Linked DNA regions of Homo sapiens: all the other regions are reported to be linked to region 3. Evidence: microRNA targets listed by miRTarBase, many of them from high-throughput screens and not tested one by one. Region 3 holds a microRNA gene; each other region holds the end of a gene's coding sequence.

Region 1 (4,000 bases), not on the chromosome of region 3:
ACAGGGTTTACCCTAAAAGGCTCTAAACTAATCATTTTTAAAGACATTGCTTTTGCTATTTAACCCAATTTTAAGGCAAATGGAAACCGTTACATATGTCTTTTTTTTTTTTTTTTTTTTTTTTTTTGAGACAGAGTTTTACTCTTGTTGCCCAGGCTGGAGTGCAATGGCACGATCTCGGCTAACTGCAACCTCCGCCTCCCGGGTTCAAGCGATTCTCCTGCCTCAGCCTCTCGAGTAGCTGGGATTACAGGCATGCGCCACCATGCCTGGCTAATTTTTGTATTTTTAGTAGAGATGGGGTTTCACCATGTTGGTCAGGCTGGTCTCAAACTCCTGACCTCAGGTTATCTGCCCACTTGGGCCTCCCAAAGTGCTGGGATTACAGGCGTGAGCCACTGCTCCTGGCCTGTTATATATGTCTTAAGTACCCTTCTGCATGCAGTCAGAAATGTTCTTTTCAAGAGGACATTTCCTTTAAAAAGTTCAAGTTTCTTATCTTACGATAAAGAGATATTTCCTATACTTATTGTCCTAAAATTCTATTTGGTCACTCTTACCTCTTTTGTGAAAGGCCACATCTTGCTAAAGTAGCAGCTACTGAACTGACCAGAAACAAACTCAAACACTGAATTTGACAAACCAACCTGCTGAATATAAGCAACTTTTTCTAAGATGAAATGTAAAAAAGAAAAAGAAAAAACAAAAAGCAACACCTTCTAGAAAGCCATTCATCTTATCTCATAAAATTAATTCCCCAGAGTTATCTCATGTAGTAGCAGCATTATCAAATAGTGCAATTCTTCAAAATTGATTTCAAATAATATCTTTCTAAAATAAATTACATTTACTTACAGCTTTGCTTATAAAACCACAGCTTAAAACACTTAGCCCTCAAATGGGTAAATTACTATAAGCAATAACTGTCTTGTCTACATGGTAATGAAATGCACGTGCACGCACACATGTGTGTGTGAAGGCCAAAGATACCGCAACAAGGTAAAAACATGTAATATTAAATAAAAAGTAAACAGTACATAATGGAATTTTTAGTTTTGGTACTTCTAATCATATTCCCGTCAATAATAAGAACTATAAATAGGTAATTGTTAAATTAAGCATCTATGTAAGAAAAGGCAAGGAGCTATATACTAAAGAACAGTGATAATTTGTATGTTTCATGCTATATAACCTATAAAGTACATGCAAAACAGCATGATCCTGAATTCCATATTTTATAGTTAATTTACATAAATGTGGCACATACAGAAAATTACAAATCTTAAAAGATTATGCTTTTCCCGCCCACTTTTTTCATCTTCTATTTATTAATCAGAAACTAGGCACTTTAATCTAAAAATTCGCTTTTTAAAAATGCATTTTAGGAGTAAGACATGGTGACACATGCCTCTGGTATGAGGAGTTGGAGACTGCAGTGAGCTATGTATGATAGCACACTGCACTCCAGCCTGGGCAATAGAGCGAGACCCCATCTCTTAAAAGAAGGCAAAAAACAATGCATTTTAGGTCCTTTTGTGCAACTCACTCCTAAAATGACTAAAGCCCGTTTTAGGGGCAAAATCAACAAATCTCATCTACTTACATACTGAGTTAGTCACTCCAAATAAGTGGTATATTATTTAGAAACAAAATTAATACAACTCTGAAAGCATTTAATATACTCTTATAGAAGAACTCCACCCATAAAAACAATTCATTTGTTTGTAGATTTATCATAATGAACATGAAATATATACTTCCACATCATTAAAAAATATTTTTGTTTTACATTCCAGGGAGGAAAAAACTCTTCTTTAAAATGTCAATAAGATTCAAACTATGAATATTTTTAAAACATGGGCATAATATGACAAATTCCCACTGGGCTGAGTTTTCTGTGGGAATAACTAAAAGGAAGGAGAAAGGAGAAATTATTTCACTGTACCAAGTTTCATACCTTCAGATGTTGACAGTCTTCAAATAACACTAAATTTTAAATTGCCTTTATTAATTAATAAATGTTATCTTTTTAATCAATACTCATTCCAGGGGAAAATGCTCTAATGTATAAAAAGAAAGTTCTTCAGTCTCTTTGTAACTTACAGGACCAACAGTAACATATTTTGGAAACTACAGTTAATATAAATTTGTAAATTGTAAATTTCTCAATGTCAATTCATTTAAATGCTGTATTTGTTTTATTTATTCACTTCTGAGATAGGGTCTTGCTGTCGCCCAGGCTGGAGTGCAGTGATGCAATCACAGCTCATGACAGCCTTGACCTTCTGGACTCAAGTGATCCTCCCACCTCAGCCTCCCAAGTAGCTGGGACCACAGACACATGCCACCACACCCAACTAATTAATTTAATTTAATTAATTTATTTTTTGAGACAGAGTCTCACTTTGTTGCCCAGGCTGGAGTGCAGTGGTGCGATCTCGGCTCACTGCAGCCTCCACTTCCTGGGTTCAAGCAATACTCCTGTGTCAGCCTCCCGAGTAGCTGGGACTACAGGCGCCCGCCACCACACCTGGCTAATTTTTGTATTTTTAGTAGAGACGGGGTTTCACCATATTGGGGAGGCTGGTCTCGAACACCTGACCTCAGGTGATCCGCCCACCTTGGCCTCCCAAAGTGCTAGGATTACAGGCATGAACCACCACACCCAGCCTATTTTTATTTTTTAAAAAAATTTTAATATTTCCATGGAACTCTGCTTGATACCAGCTAATTTATTTTTATGTTTTTGTAGAGACAGGCATCTCCTTATGTTGTCCAGGCTAGTCTCAACCTCCTGGCCTCAAACTGTCCTCCTGCCTCAGCCTCCCAATGTATTACAGGCATGAGCCACTGCAAGTGGCCCATTTAAATGTTCTATAACAATATTCAGTGATTACAATTTCTTTGATTCAAATACATAAGCAAATGCACAAGCAATAATGTATGCAGTACATATTAAACATCATTACTGCCTAAACTTGATTAAACAAATGAATAACTTTATAATTAAAAATATGTTTCTAGGCAAAGTTAAATATATTGACATTAGAAGTAATATATTCTTGCATGTGTGGGCCACAAAGACCTTGGCTAAAGTGTACATTTTAAAGGTGCAAAGCATAAAAACAGAGCTTTTGAGAATGACAGCTTCAAGAAGACAAACCAATTAACTCCCAAATATTGGCTTCAATTCAAGCGATATTTCTGTAAAATATACATTTCATGACTTCAATTATTACCTAATGAATGCAAAAAGCCACTATGACTACACTACACAGGAATTCAATGACAGAACTTCTGTATAAATACAGTACAGTTGCTCATTTTTTAGTAGATTTTTTTTTCCTCCCTGAATCCACATGCATCAATTCTGTTAACTTTGTAATATATGTTACAAAATCAATAGTTACCTTAAAATATTTCATAGCACACTCAAATTGTATGATTCTTATGGTACTTATTGTACTTTGGCTTCCAGTAGCCCAGTGGACATAACATGACCATGACTGCTTAGACAACTACTTGTATGCCTCAGGGCATCTGCTTCAAGATAGGCCATTAAAAGCTCAGTGCGGCGAATGAGTAACTGCATGAGGTCTTCAGCTAAAGTCTCTGTACTTGAATAGCGCACCTTCTCAAAGTCAAAAATGTCTTTGAGAAATAAAAGAACTTGATTCTGGAAAATGAACATAAATTGGCATTTATTAGACCAAAATTAAGTTACATTGAGAAAGCTTCTAATATTATAATGAGCACTGAATCAGGACTCAGAAGACCTGACTTCCAGTGCTAGTTTCATATCTCATTAGAAAAGGGACCTTGCACAAGTGATTTAACCTTTCCTTTTTGGGGGCTCATTTTCTTTTTCTGTGAAATAGGGCTAATACCACCCACCCTACTTACTACTCAGGGATGACATGATGATCAAAAAAGATAACCTATGTGATACCATGAAAAGGTGGGGAAACATTTAAAAAAAGATAATCTATAAGAAGTGCCT
Region 2 (4,000 bases), not on the chromosome of region 3:
AAGTAAAGCTCAGCGAGCTGGGGTGGCTCACCCAGTCCAAGGGCAGATTGCAGGGACTCCTCTTCACCACATCTTGTCCATTCCCTTACTCGTGAGGGTCTCCTGAGCACTGGTAGTGAGCAGGTGCTGGACATGCCACAGGGAACACGGCAGATCCTCCGCCGTCCCGAAGCACACATCATGGTGCTCCCCTTGACTTTCACCAGGATGACTCCGGGTATGGGCCAGTTACCTGAACATCCTGGGGGGGCCCACGTCCCTTCTACTTGTCCTCAAGAATGACTTAAAGAGTCTGGTCTGACCCTCCCACAGGTTTCTGCCCATGGAGGGGCAACTGGACAGCAGCTATCACCACGGCATATGTAGCCACCGCTAACTCATTAATGCTGCTTCCAGGAACTTATCTTCTAGAAGTGCTTGAATATGTACAGAGGGGCACTAGCCTAATAATATTTATTGCAGCATTGTTTGTAATATAAAAGTAGTAAAAACAACTCAAATTTCCACCAATAGGGATCTCACTGCAGGTCATTAACATTTGTTATGGGAAACATACACAATGGAATACCACTAGCTGTAAAAAAAAAAAAATTTTTTTTTAAAGGGAGATCTTTAACGCAAAACTCTCCAGGATATATACATATCTTTTCAGGGTGCATGTGATAATTTAATACATTCATATTCTCCAGGATATATATATATTTTTTTCTCTTTTTTTTTTTTTTGAGACGGAGTCTTGCACTGTCGCCCAGGCTGGAGTGCAGTGGCATGTTCTAGGCTCACTGCAACCTCCGCCTCCCAGGTTCAAGCGATTCTCCTGCCTCAGCCTCCCGAGTAGCTGGGATTACAGGCACTCGCCACCATGCCCAGCTAATTTTTTGTATTTTTAGTAGAGACGGGGTTTCACCATGTTGGCCAGGCTGGTCTCGAACCCCTGACCTCGTGATTCGCCCGCCTCGGCCTCCCAAAGTGCTTGGATTACAGGTGTGAGCCACCACACCTGGCCCCCCAGGATATATTTTTAAAGGGCAAGGTCAGTACAGTATGTGGAATATGTTAATACGTATATAAAAAATCGCCAAGAATAAAATATACCAAATTGCTTAAATACGCAAAATACTTCTAGAAGGGTTCATAAGTAACTGAGACCAGGGTGGCTGGGGACGGGGTAAGAGGGAGACTTCATTATATCTCTGCTGTATTTAAAAAAATATGTACCATGGGCAAAGGTTACGCATTTAAAAATACATAAATAAAATTTAAAGTGTTAGTCTCTCAGTGCATATTCCCTGGTTTCTCGGCCTTTCTTTGCTCTTGGCCTGCCTTTGCTGGCAGCAAGCGTTTTATGGGAGGCCCCCACTTTGGCAGTTTACACTCTGCAGTCCAAACCCCGTTTCCAGACTGAATCTGAGGTCCGGGAAGATCCGCCACAAGGAGGCACTGTCTGCTGCTGGCCGGTTGGTGAACGGAAAGCCAGTCCTCCCCAGGGCGCCTTTGGTCAGGGCCTTTGCTGAGCAGGAGCTCACCTCCCTGTCCCCACTTACCCCACCCTGGTCCCAACATTCCTCCGAGAAATCTGGAAAATTGGAAGTTAGGAATTCACTTTGTATCCCTGTTACCACCGACCCCAATTTGGAAGGTGCCCCTCACCCTCCTTGGGGCTCACGGGAACATGGGTGTGAATGCCTGGTGTGAAGAGATGTGTTCCCTCCCCTGGGCTGGCTCCCCATTCCAGCCAAGAAACCCTCCCAGTCACTGGACAGAGTCAGAACAGTTGAAACTCTGCTGGAGGGTGGCTGAGGGGACAGTGTGACACCCTGGGAACCACTGAGCCTACTCGCATGGCTGCCATCCACCTACCACGTCACTCCGCAAGTCTTTATTGCCACCCACCAGGTGCAAAGGTCTTCCTCCAACACCTGCCTTGAATGTAGGGGTGACCATGGGGCCTTTGCTCCAGCTGTTCCCCCCACCCTGCCCCCACCTTCCCAGCCCCCCAGCTGTGGGCCCTCAAGGCAGTTCCCATCCTGCCTCCTGGGCTGCAGCTGCCCAAAGGCTCCAGTCAAGAGCGGCTGATCAGTGCCTGGGGCAAAAGAGGATGCCCAGCCCTGGGGGCCCTGGCATTCAGAGCTGAGCAGACAGACCCTTGGAGAATGACAGCGTAAGCACAAGCTACAGGAGAATGGCCATGCCCTCAAGATGCAGGCTCCAGCAAGGAGGACGCCCTCCCTGGGGGCTGGTCTGTTTCTGGTAGTGACCCCAGGGCCTGGCACTGAGGCAGCCCTTGGGAGTCTGGTAGACGGACACAGGCTAGCCTTCCCATCCAATCTGATGATCGTGCTGTCATCTGATGTTCCTGGTCTAACACCTAGGCAGTAGGTGGAGGCAGGGGATACAGGTCACACAGGCTACCTCCATGGGCAGCAGCCTCCATGGGAATGGAGGGAACAGCCCTCTGGGGGCTCCTCCTGGGCCCTTCCAGGGGTCACCCAGTGAGATCCTACGTGGGGCAAGGGTGCCCTGGATGAGAGTCCCTTTGTTGAGGTCCCCCCATCTGCATGAGTCCTTGGGGTGCTAAACTACAGCAGAGCCCTCAAACTGCAAAGCTGAGGGTCAGTTCTGAGCAAGGATGCAGGGGAAGGCACAGTGCCCCTAGAAGGCTGCTGGGGGCCATGGCCTCCTGTCACCTCTACCTGGCTTCTCCAAAACCCTGGGGGCCCTGCCCTTCTGTGGTGCCCACAGAAACGTGTGTTGGAGGGAAGGAGGCGGGAGATGAGGTGGGTTCACTCCCCCTACCCAGAGGGACCAGAGGACTAAAACAAACCAGCTTTAATACCAATATAGTTCTCTCTTAAATACCGTGTTTCCCAGGACAAATGCAGGGGCAGGCTCTTGGCAGAAAGAGTAGAAAGGAAATGTGGAACAAAATGGAATGGATGGCCCAGGCCCAGGGTCCCTGCCTTGGGCACTAGGGACTGGGCTGCCTCGGGGATGGGGGAGTGACAGCAGCTCCCCCTGGTCCAGTTATTGCAGAGGCGTCGGGGGCTCCCCTCCCTCCCCAGGCCTGAAACATTTCTCAGGATTACTTCTGACCTTCAGCCCCAGCAGGGCCAGGGCCTGGGCTCCTCTGGTCTAGGATGGGCCCCTTTGCCCAAAAGGGCCTGCAGCTAAGGCGTGGGGTGGGGCGGGGAGCCCCTGGACAGGCCCGCTGCTCTTAGTAGGTGCTCTGGTGGCCCGTGAGGATGTAGAGGTTGCTGTGCGCCTCTGGGTTGTCAGTGGGAATGCTCTCCAGGATGATGTCTCTGGAGGAGAGAGGAGTAGGGGGCAGGGCGGGAGACACTTGGTACATCAGCCCCTTCTCTGGCCTCAGGGGCATCTGAAGGGGAGGCTAGGGTACCACCGCCTACCTGTGGGCCCCAAGCACTCGGAAGATCCTTGTTTCATCTGTGATCTCCTGGGTCACCTGGGAAGACAGGTGGGAAGCACTGAGGCCACTCCAGTAGGTCCTTTCCAAAGAGGTAGGGACCACAAGGCAGGGGACAGCAAGGTCCCTGGGCCCCACTCACCTCATTGGTATCCAGGCTTCGGCCTTGCATCCCATGGCTCCAGAAGGCCAGCACACTGTCCTGCAGGCACACTATGGGGGCCAGGCCACCATCAGCCCTGCACCCATCTTGGCACCCCCTCAGCCACGCCTGAGCCTGGGTCTGGGCCACAGGGGTCCTCACTGACCTCAGGTGACCAGGATGGCTCAGGAGAGGGGCTAGGGGATCTGCCTCCTCATCCTACCGCCAGCCCCAGGCCCCTGAGCAACAACGTGCTCCAGGCCAGGGAAAGGCCTGCACCCCACCTCTGGCTCACTCACCCACAGTCTCGATGGGGAAATCAAAGGTCAGCTCAGGTGCCAGTGTGGCCGTGGGCTCGCCCTGCATGTTGACAATCCTCACACAGCCTGCACAGGGAAGGAATTGGTGAGTGGGGACGGGGAGGCTCCCTTCTG
Region 3 (4,150 bases):
ATTGCAGCCTCAAACTCCTGGGCTTAAGCAATCCTCCCACCTCAGCCTCCAAGTAGCTGGGACTACAGGCATGCACCATCATGCCTGGCTAATTTTTGTTTTAGAGTCAGTCTTGCTATGTTGCCCAGGCTTGTCCTGAACTCTTAGCTTCAAGCAATCCTCCTGCCTCAGCCTCCCAAAGTCCTGGGATTACAAACATGAGCCACCGCACCTGACTGAAAACTGTTTTTAAAAGTGTAAGCTGATCTACTAAGTTCAAATATAATGTCATCATTTCATTTGGGTTCAATAATTTTTAAATGGCATTGGTAGATACTGAGATTACAAAGATGAAAAGACTTTGTCTCTGCCTTTCAAGAGCCCAAAGTCTAAAAGTGGGGGGAATCACACAAAGACTTCATTTTAATTAAACTTTGTTAGGACTAAGAGAGAGGTGTTCTTTGGGATCACAAGGGCCATACTAGGAAGACTGGGCTTTATTTTAAAAGCAGTCGGCCAGGCGTGGTGGCTCATGCCTATAATCCCAGCACTTTGGGAGGCCGAGGCGTTTGGATCATTTGAGGTCATGAGTTCGAGACCAGTCTGGCTAATATGGTGAAACCCCGTCTCTACTAAAAATACAAAAATTAGCTGCGTGTGGTGGCACACGCCTATAATCTCAGCTACTCGGGAGGCTGAGGCGGGAGAATTGCTTGAACCCAGGAGGCGGAGGTTGCAGTGAGCCGAGATCACGCCACTACACTCCAGCCTGGGCGACAGAGCAAGACTCTGTCTCAAAAACAAAACAAAACAAACAAAAACAAAGAAACAAACAAACAAAAAACAGTCTCTATTGGGAACCATGGAAGGTTTTTAAACTGGGGATTGACATGATTAGTTTGTGTTTTAGACATATCATCCTGGAAGCTGTTTAGAAGACTGATGTGAAGGCAGCAGGGCTAGTATCAGAGAGATGAGTGAGGAGACAGTTGTAGTAGTTTGGGTGAGAAATGATAGAAGCTTGAATGAAAAGCAGTGGTGATAAGAATGGAGAAGAGGAGGTCAGATTCAATAAATATTTGATAGATAAAACTGTAGGACTTAGTGTGATGAGGAATGAGGAAGCTGGAGAAGTCTAGGATGGCTCGCAGATTTCTAGCTTGGATCGCTGGGTGGATGGTGGTGCCATTAACTGAGAAAAGGAATATAGGAAGAGGTTTGCAGGCTGAAATGAAGAGGTAGTTTTGGATAATACTTAGGTATAAGGCACCTGGAAAAGGATGGAGAGGATGTGCCCAGCAATCAATGTAACTTTGATCAAGCTATTTAACCTCTCTCTGCCGCAGTTTCCTGATTTATAAAATGGCAGCATTGTAACAAGGGCTAACAATAATAAATATATTCGGCCGGGCACAGTGGCTCACACCTGTAATCCCAGCACTTTGGGAGGCCAAGACAGGTGGATCATGAGGTTAGGAGTTCAAGACCAGCCTGGTCAACATGGTGAAACCCCGTCTCTACTAAAAATACAAAAATCATCTGGGCATGGTGGCATGTGCTTGTAGTCCCAGCTACTTGGGAGGCTGAAGCAGGAGAATTGCTTGAACCGGGGAGGTGGAGGTTGCAGTGAGCCGAGATTGCGCCACTGTACTCCAGCCTGGGCAACAGAGCAAGACTCCATCTCAAAAAAAAAAAATTAAAAATAAATAAATAAATAAATAAATTCATATTTATATGTGTAAATTTTTCCCCAAATTCAAGCATTTGGGATTTTTCACCTAATTTACTTTGGGGAAGTTGCAAACTATATTAACTGTTTATTAAATATGTATCTAGCTCTCTATAAGAAGACTTGCCGAGTGGTATTGGAGGCATATTTAAATTTATAAGTGCAGCTTTATGTAAGCCAACTCAATGAAAATACAGAAGTAAAAGAAAGATCAGATAGTGATAATCTGCTGCCACAAAAGACTCAGAATAAGATTCTTTTAATTAGACATTCCTCCTGGTGAATATAAGCCAATTTACTTTGGAGAAATTAGACTTACATAAATTTCAAAAATAAAGATAGCTAACTTTTATTTTTTTCATACTGCATCCTAATTAATATTTTTTTTTATCCTCACAACAATTTTATTGTGGTAGATACTATTAGCCTTCTCATTTTAGGTTAATAGTATCTACCGCAATAAAGAAACAGAGGCTAAGAGAGGTTGAGTAGCATAACCAAAACCATTAATCAGGTAAGCAATAAGCCAGGACTCAAACCCAGTCCTCTCTGACTACAACCAAGAGCTGTTGTTATATATAGAGCCATGTACTCTGATTGTATATAAAGCTGTGGTTAAATCAATTTAATGATCAAAATAATCATCTGGTCTGATTTATGTGGAAATTATTGACCCTTCACTATTGCTTTCATATTCCTCTTCCTCTTTAGCATTCTCAGTTAATTTCTAGGTTCTGTTTGTAATCTGCACGTGAGGTCCCATTATTTCCCTGTCCATCTTCCCTTCCTCTCGTTATATTGCTCTATTCAGCACACAAATTGGACATGTTCAGTAAACAAGGCAGGCCTTGGCTTAAAACAGCAAAATTTGTGATATCTTCAGAAGAGCTTTCTTCAAACCCATTCCTGACCTGTGCTTGTGGAGCCAGGACTGCTGAAATTACTGTTGCTCAGCCCAGCAGCCCGTCAATACAGAAACTTTACAGAGGAAAGCAAATGCACATTCATGATGAGATGGGTTGGTGGTGCTGGAGGAATTTGCTGTGTGGGAATGGAGATGTGAAGAGTTGTTTGTTCTTCATAAGAGAGCGTGGCTGTGCTTCTCCCAGGAAATGGAAAGGATGCCAGCTGAGCACAGGCACCTCTAGCACTGGAGCAGTCAAGTACATAGGAGAATGAGCACAGCAGGATTCCTCATAAGATGGAGCTATGTTTGAACGAGGGCACTTCTGGACTCCTCAGACCCACGTAGGCTATCTAGGCCAGGGATAGTGTCTGCTCATGGTTATTTGCCTGAATAGTGACCAAAAGTTTTGAGAAGAACCTTGCCGAAGGACAGAACTTTAAATTAATTTAACATGCAGATTTTTTGAATGGTTGGACTGTATTTATCTTTTCATGGTGGCAAGGCACCTCAATAATCAGGATGCATTGTGTTCAGGATCTAATTTCCCAAATGTCAGCATGCAATACATTTCAAAAGTCATTCACTTTGCAATGTATTTTTCCCATTACACTCATATGGCAGAAATTATTGCAAATAATAGCCTAGGAAGTTGCGATCGTCATTATATCAGCTAAGGGGTCTGACTGGGCTGTTGACAGTGAAGGTTATTTCTACTGAAAAGAGAAAGAGAATTCCACACTAGTTCAAAAATAAACATATTTGATGTCTTCTATCAACTGCTCCTCCACCTCTCTCTAGCTTCATACTTTCCCTTGATTCCTCAAGCCTGTCTATTTATAGATGCCTGAATGTATAATAACTTACTATTTTGCCTCCGTGTATTGCATGTAATTCTCACTGCTTAGAAAAATCTATGCCCCTTCTTTTCTGTATATTTCCATCTAATCTTTAAAGCCAAAATTTACCTTTTTTCAGATGCCTTCCTTATAATAAACACATCCCAAGTGTAATCATTTTTTCTTTTTCTTTTCCTTATCTATTGCAGCTTTAGTCTACACTACACCATATTTCTTGACGTTACTAAAATGTTTCTTTGGATTTTACCTCAAGTTGGTTTATGGGTGTGTGTTTTAGCCTCCAATTAGATTTTTTTCTCTGGAAAGCTCAAGGGCTGTGTCTTTTATTTCTTTAACATCCAGAATAGTACAATGACTCATATTAGAATGAAATAAATGACATACCTGTGATATACTCTCACCAGCCTTATACATTTGACAAGGATACCAAGAAAGATTTTATTAAAGAGGCATCAAATCAATTTCAAAAGGTTAAAGATGAAATATGAACATCCAATCTGTCCTTCATGGATTTTTCATCCAAGACCTTATTAAAGCTTTTCTTGTTTATATTTATATTAGTTTCCTTTATCAAATCTCAGAATAACAATTAACAAATTGATGGAAGATTCTGTCTTAGAAAACAACAAGGTCAGTCACTCATTACCAATTTATTCTTCAACAAATTTAATTATCCCA
Region 4 (4,000 bases), not on the chromosome of region 3:
GGATGATGGCCTCCTCCTCTGACTCTTCCCATGCTCAAGCTTTTGCATTACCATTTCTCTCCTCCCATTCCACCTTGTCTACTCCTAGGTGACTGCTCTTAAAACACACCTTTTAAAAAGTTCTGTTTAGAGCATTCAACAGCAAAGTAACAGGACCATCAGGGAAATAATATGCTACTTAAAAAGTGACAGGAGGATTTGGGACAACACTCTATCTCATACTATATTGACTACTCAAAGCTGCATAGCTGTGTCTTACACATGCCTACACAAGGCTTGATGAATATTAATGTCATATAAAAAATAATTTTTACAAATCAGCTCTCTTAGTTGTTTAACTTCCCCAGGAACACAAGGCTTAAAGCAAAATTTCAAACTTATGCTTTTTATCCCAATGGGACAAAGAGTGCAACACTGCAAGGAAGTCAGAAAATGCAAACTTAGGTAGCAAAAGTAGGAAGAACCTCCATGTTCCCTTTCTGTTTGTCATTATCTCTCCCCAGTCAAAATCCTAAAACTATTAGTAGTAGTATGAAAGGATATGAAAACAATTTACTCTCCCCACCTATATCATACTGAAACTCTGCTTTAAAGCTCAGGAGAGAGGTGGATGCTCAGTGTTGTCTATATATCCATTATATATAGCTGAAGCTTTGAAATTAAGATGATTAACTCATCTTGAAAGAAACAGCTGCACCAATGTGATAGCAAACAAGCCATTTTTAAATAAAAACTCACTTGAAAAAAGCAAGTGCATATTTTGTGTATGTTTTGAGTGGGGACAACAGAGATCTGGACTAGATTTAAGATTATACGGTATTCTCCAATAGAAAACCCTCTTGTAAGCCCCTCCTGAATACTTAAGACAGCAGTAGGCACAGGGGCTTTCAATAAGTACAGAATGGCTGCTATTAGGAAAGAGAACAAATAAAAGGAGAGCCTACAACACAGTTCAAAATTGATACCTTAAAGGCCATAGGTAATACAGTTATAGGATGTAATCATTATTGCTGGAGCAGTCTATCCCCATATAATAAATTTTGTATTAACCGTGGATAATCTATGAAAAGTTTTAATTCCAGGCGAGATTTTCCGTTGCACCTCTCTCTCTCATACTGTGGGCCATCTCTTACTAATGCTTAGCCTGTATTTGTGTTCTGAAATTCCAAGAAGAGGGAAAAGTCAAGCATATGACAATTCTGTCATGATGATTAACTGCTAATAAATGAAAACTCATTATAGAGTACCTAGCTTTCCTTGATACTTTAATCCAATGATTAAAAATGTGATATAAAGAAATACGTAACATAGACTACAAGCTATCGTAGGTCTGGAACATGAGCCTTATATTATATTACATATTCTAATCCTACATGTAACTATCAGTAAACATCTTTTTTTAAAACATTACTACACAAAGAATTCCACAAAGCATACATTCAAACAAGAGGCATCTAAAGATTAAAAAAATTACCCGCTGTATTTTTGTATAAAAATAATCAACATTCTCTAATGTACACAAAGCCAAAAGATAAATATAGTATCTGTGATGTCTTCAGTGACATCTTTAGTCTTCTACCAGCTCAACACAATCTTTTTGAAAAGAGCAGTGAAAATGACTGAAACTCACGGACTCTTTTTTTCCCCTCCTTACTCGACTTCTGCCAAATATCTGTGTATGTTCCTTCAATTACTAAAATATCTCAATTGTGGTAATATAAGAAAAGATGAAAACAAAACATTCATCATCTCAAATAAAATTTTTGATGTCCAGGACTATAAAGCTTTCAGGGCTTCCACAAACAATTTTGTTTTAGTGTCATAATTCTATAGAACACTGTTCAGTAAAAGGTTTTGCTTTACATTTTTTTCCTCAAACATGTACATACAAAATTATATCCGATGGTTCAAGAGAAATCACTTGGTAAGTGCTTTGCAGGAAGCATGCAAACGTTTGGTAAAGGAAGTAGGAATGTGCATTCTAGCTAGTCCCAGCATGTTCAACAATAGAAAAAAATCCAAAGAGCAACCACGTATCTGCTACAAACTATTTTCTTGCCAGAAAAGGCTGTGCACTAGTTCATAGGTATAATCATATTATGTCTTCGTCAGTGCAGAGGAGCACAGAGGTATGAAAGATAATCAGAATGAATTAGTACTTTCTGAGAGTTAAATTATTTGCATGTTTGTCCTTATTTTATAGGACAATTTGTAGATTTTTTTTCTTTTTCTAGTATGATTAAACTAGAAAAAATTATTCAGCAGAATATTAATGTTATCTGAATAATACTTCCATCATATATGTTTAGTAAGCTTCATCCTTTAAAAGTATTCCTTTGGGTGAAAACAATATTTATCACTCCTTCTATATCAGAGTTTCTCAACCTTGGCAGTACCGATATTTTTGAACCAATAATTCTTTACAGTGGAGGGGTGCTGTCCTGTGCATTATAAGATGTTTAGAAACATCTCTGGCTTCTAACTACTAGACACCAGTAGCAACCCTCCCCTGAACCCACCCCCAAGCTGTGACAACCAAAATGTCTCAACATTGCCAGATGTCCCCTGGCGATCAAAACTGACCTCCACTGAGAACCACTGCTCTAAATAAATGTACAAAAACTGAGAGGAAAACGTTCTCAGTCAAACCAAATTCTTGGTCAAGTTTGGAATAGAAACTAACTCTTCTCACTTCCAGATCAGTATTGTTCATACTAGAACACAATTCCTTTTTTATAGATAAAGCATATGTCTAAAAGACATGTTTTTTAAAATGTACACTGATTTCATACGATTCTGTCACTGGACTACTAAATTATTCCATAATATACCTCTCATGACAACCTTTAGAAAACTAATAGGGTAGAAAAAATGTATAAGAAAATTGAATCAAAAGAGGAGAAATGTAAATCATTAAATTACTTTTAAAAGGATTCTTTATATTAATGATAAACATCACCTTTAAAAAAATTATCTAGTATAACACATTTCTTTGAAAAATATCATGGCCCTCTGTAACAAGTCTTTCAATGTTTCATGTAACCTGTAAAATTAATTTTACCAATGTTTATTAATTATGAAAATGCATGATGAATTATTATACCTGTAGAAGAAATGTCAGTATTTGATGTGGAGATCCCAATGTGCTTGGCTATCCACCACAATAAGTGTCATATTCTAGACCAAGTTAGGCCTTTACCTTACAAGTTTTTGTGAGAAAAGTAAAACTGCTGTTTTATCAAGGCTTCATGTTCCTGTTAAGATTCCTTCAGAGAGTTGATGCGTGCACAGATCTTCAGGGCTGGGCCTAGCTTGATATTCATTGCACTCATGAGATGGTCTTCTTTCAGCAAGAGAAGGGCCTGTCCATCAATCTCCTGTGCTCTGAATTCATCTGCGATATCCTGGCAGCCTGGAATTTGACCAGAGGACAGAAGTTAGAATTAAATATACAACAATTAGACATTACTCCTAACAGTCACAGTTATGCTCTCACTGGGTCTGAGAATCTGAAATACAGGCTGAGAAACAAATGAAATTTATTTATGGTAGTCTTGAGTTCACTCTTGAAGAATAGAGTATTTGCATTCTGAAAATAAGAATTCAAAATCCAGGTAAAGCAATTTGCTTGGAATTCTTGCTCTAAAATAATGTTATAGAAATAATTCATAAGAGGGAAGTCTAGATATAATACTTCCTTCACAAAAAGGACTATGGTGTTACCTCAAAGCATGCCACATAACAGGTTTGGGTTAACTAGTTATACCTCATGCACTTATCTCTGTATAATATATCCTTCACATATAGGTAAAGAGGAAACAAAAATATGTTTTGTCATTTAAATAACAATCTAGAAATATTTTCTCAAGTAAGTACCACTTTCATTATCATTTGTACCTTATCCTAATTTATGACCTTCACTTGAAAAGTACATTTAAAATATTTTTATTGTTCACTCGGGACATATCAAATTTCTCAAGACTGTATTACCAATCTATTG

The links. The annotated mature microRNA hsa-miR-633 reads CUAAUAGUAUCUACCACAAUAAA and lies in region 3 at 2,112-2,134, opposite strand. An mRNA with a match to its seed (bases 2 to 7 or 8) in the 3' UTR can be bound and repressed. Matches are read on the target gene's strand: a 7mer-m8 pairs with bases 2 to 8, a 7mer-A1 pairs with bases 2 to 7 and ends in A, and an 8mer does both.
Region 1: the mRNA of MIGA1 is a reported target of hsa-miR-633. The part of its 3' UTR that is shown has no 7-base or 8-base seed match.
Region 2: miRTarBase lists MAP4K2 as a target of hsa-miR-633. The part of its 3' UTR that is shown has no 7-base or 8-base seed match.
Region 4: the mRNA of PHC3 is a reported target of hsa-miR-633. The part of its 3' UTR that is shown has no 7-base or 8-base seed match.

What each region holds. Positions count from the first base shown.
Region 1 is chr1:77,874,522-77,878,521 of GRCh38, reverse strand. MIGA1 (mitoguardin 1) reads right to left here. Exons shown (of 16, transcript NM_001416120.1): 16 at 1-3,676. The coding sequence ends at 3,458. Among named protein-coding and RNA genes, the nearest start is that of NEXN, 12 kb to the left of the region's middle.
Region 2 is chr11:64,786,323-64,790,322 of GRCh38, forward strand. MAP4K2 (mitogen-activated protein kinase kinase kinase kinase 2) reads right to left here. Exons shown (of 32, transcript NM_004579.5): 29 at 3,866-3,952; 30 at 3,567-3,637; 31 at 3,408-3,463; 32 at 1-3,302. The coding sequence ends at 3,215. Among named protein-coding and RNA genes, the nearest start is that of SF1, 9.8 kb to the left of the region's middle. RefSeq lists an enhancer at 3,687-4,000.
Region 3 is chr17:62,942,259-62,946,408 of GRCh38, reverse strand. MIR633 (microRNA 633) reads right to left here and starts at 2,194; the gene lies at 2,097-2,194.
Region 4 is chr3:170,093,973-170,097,972 of GRCh38, forward strand. PHC3 (polyhomeotic homolog 3) reads right to left here. Exons shown (of 15, transcript NM_024947.4): 15 at 1-3,412. The coding sequence ends at 3,258. Among named protein-coding and RNA genes, the nearest start is that of GPR160, 58 kb to the left of the region's middle.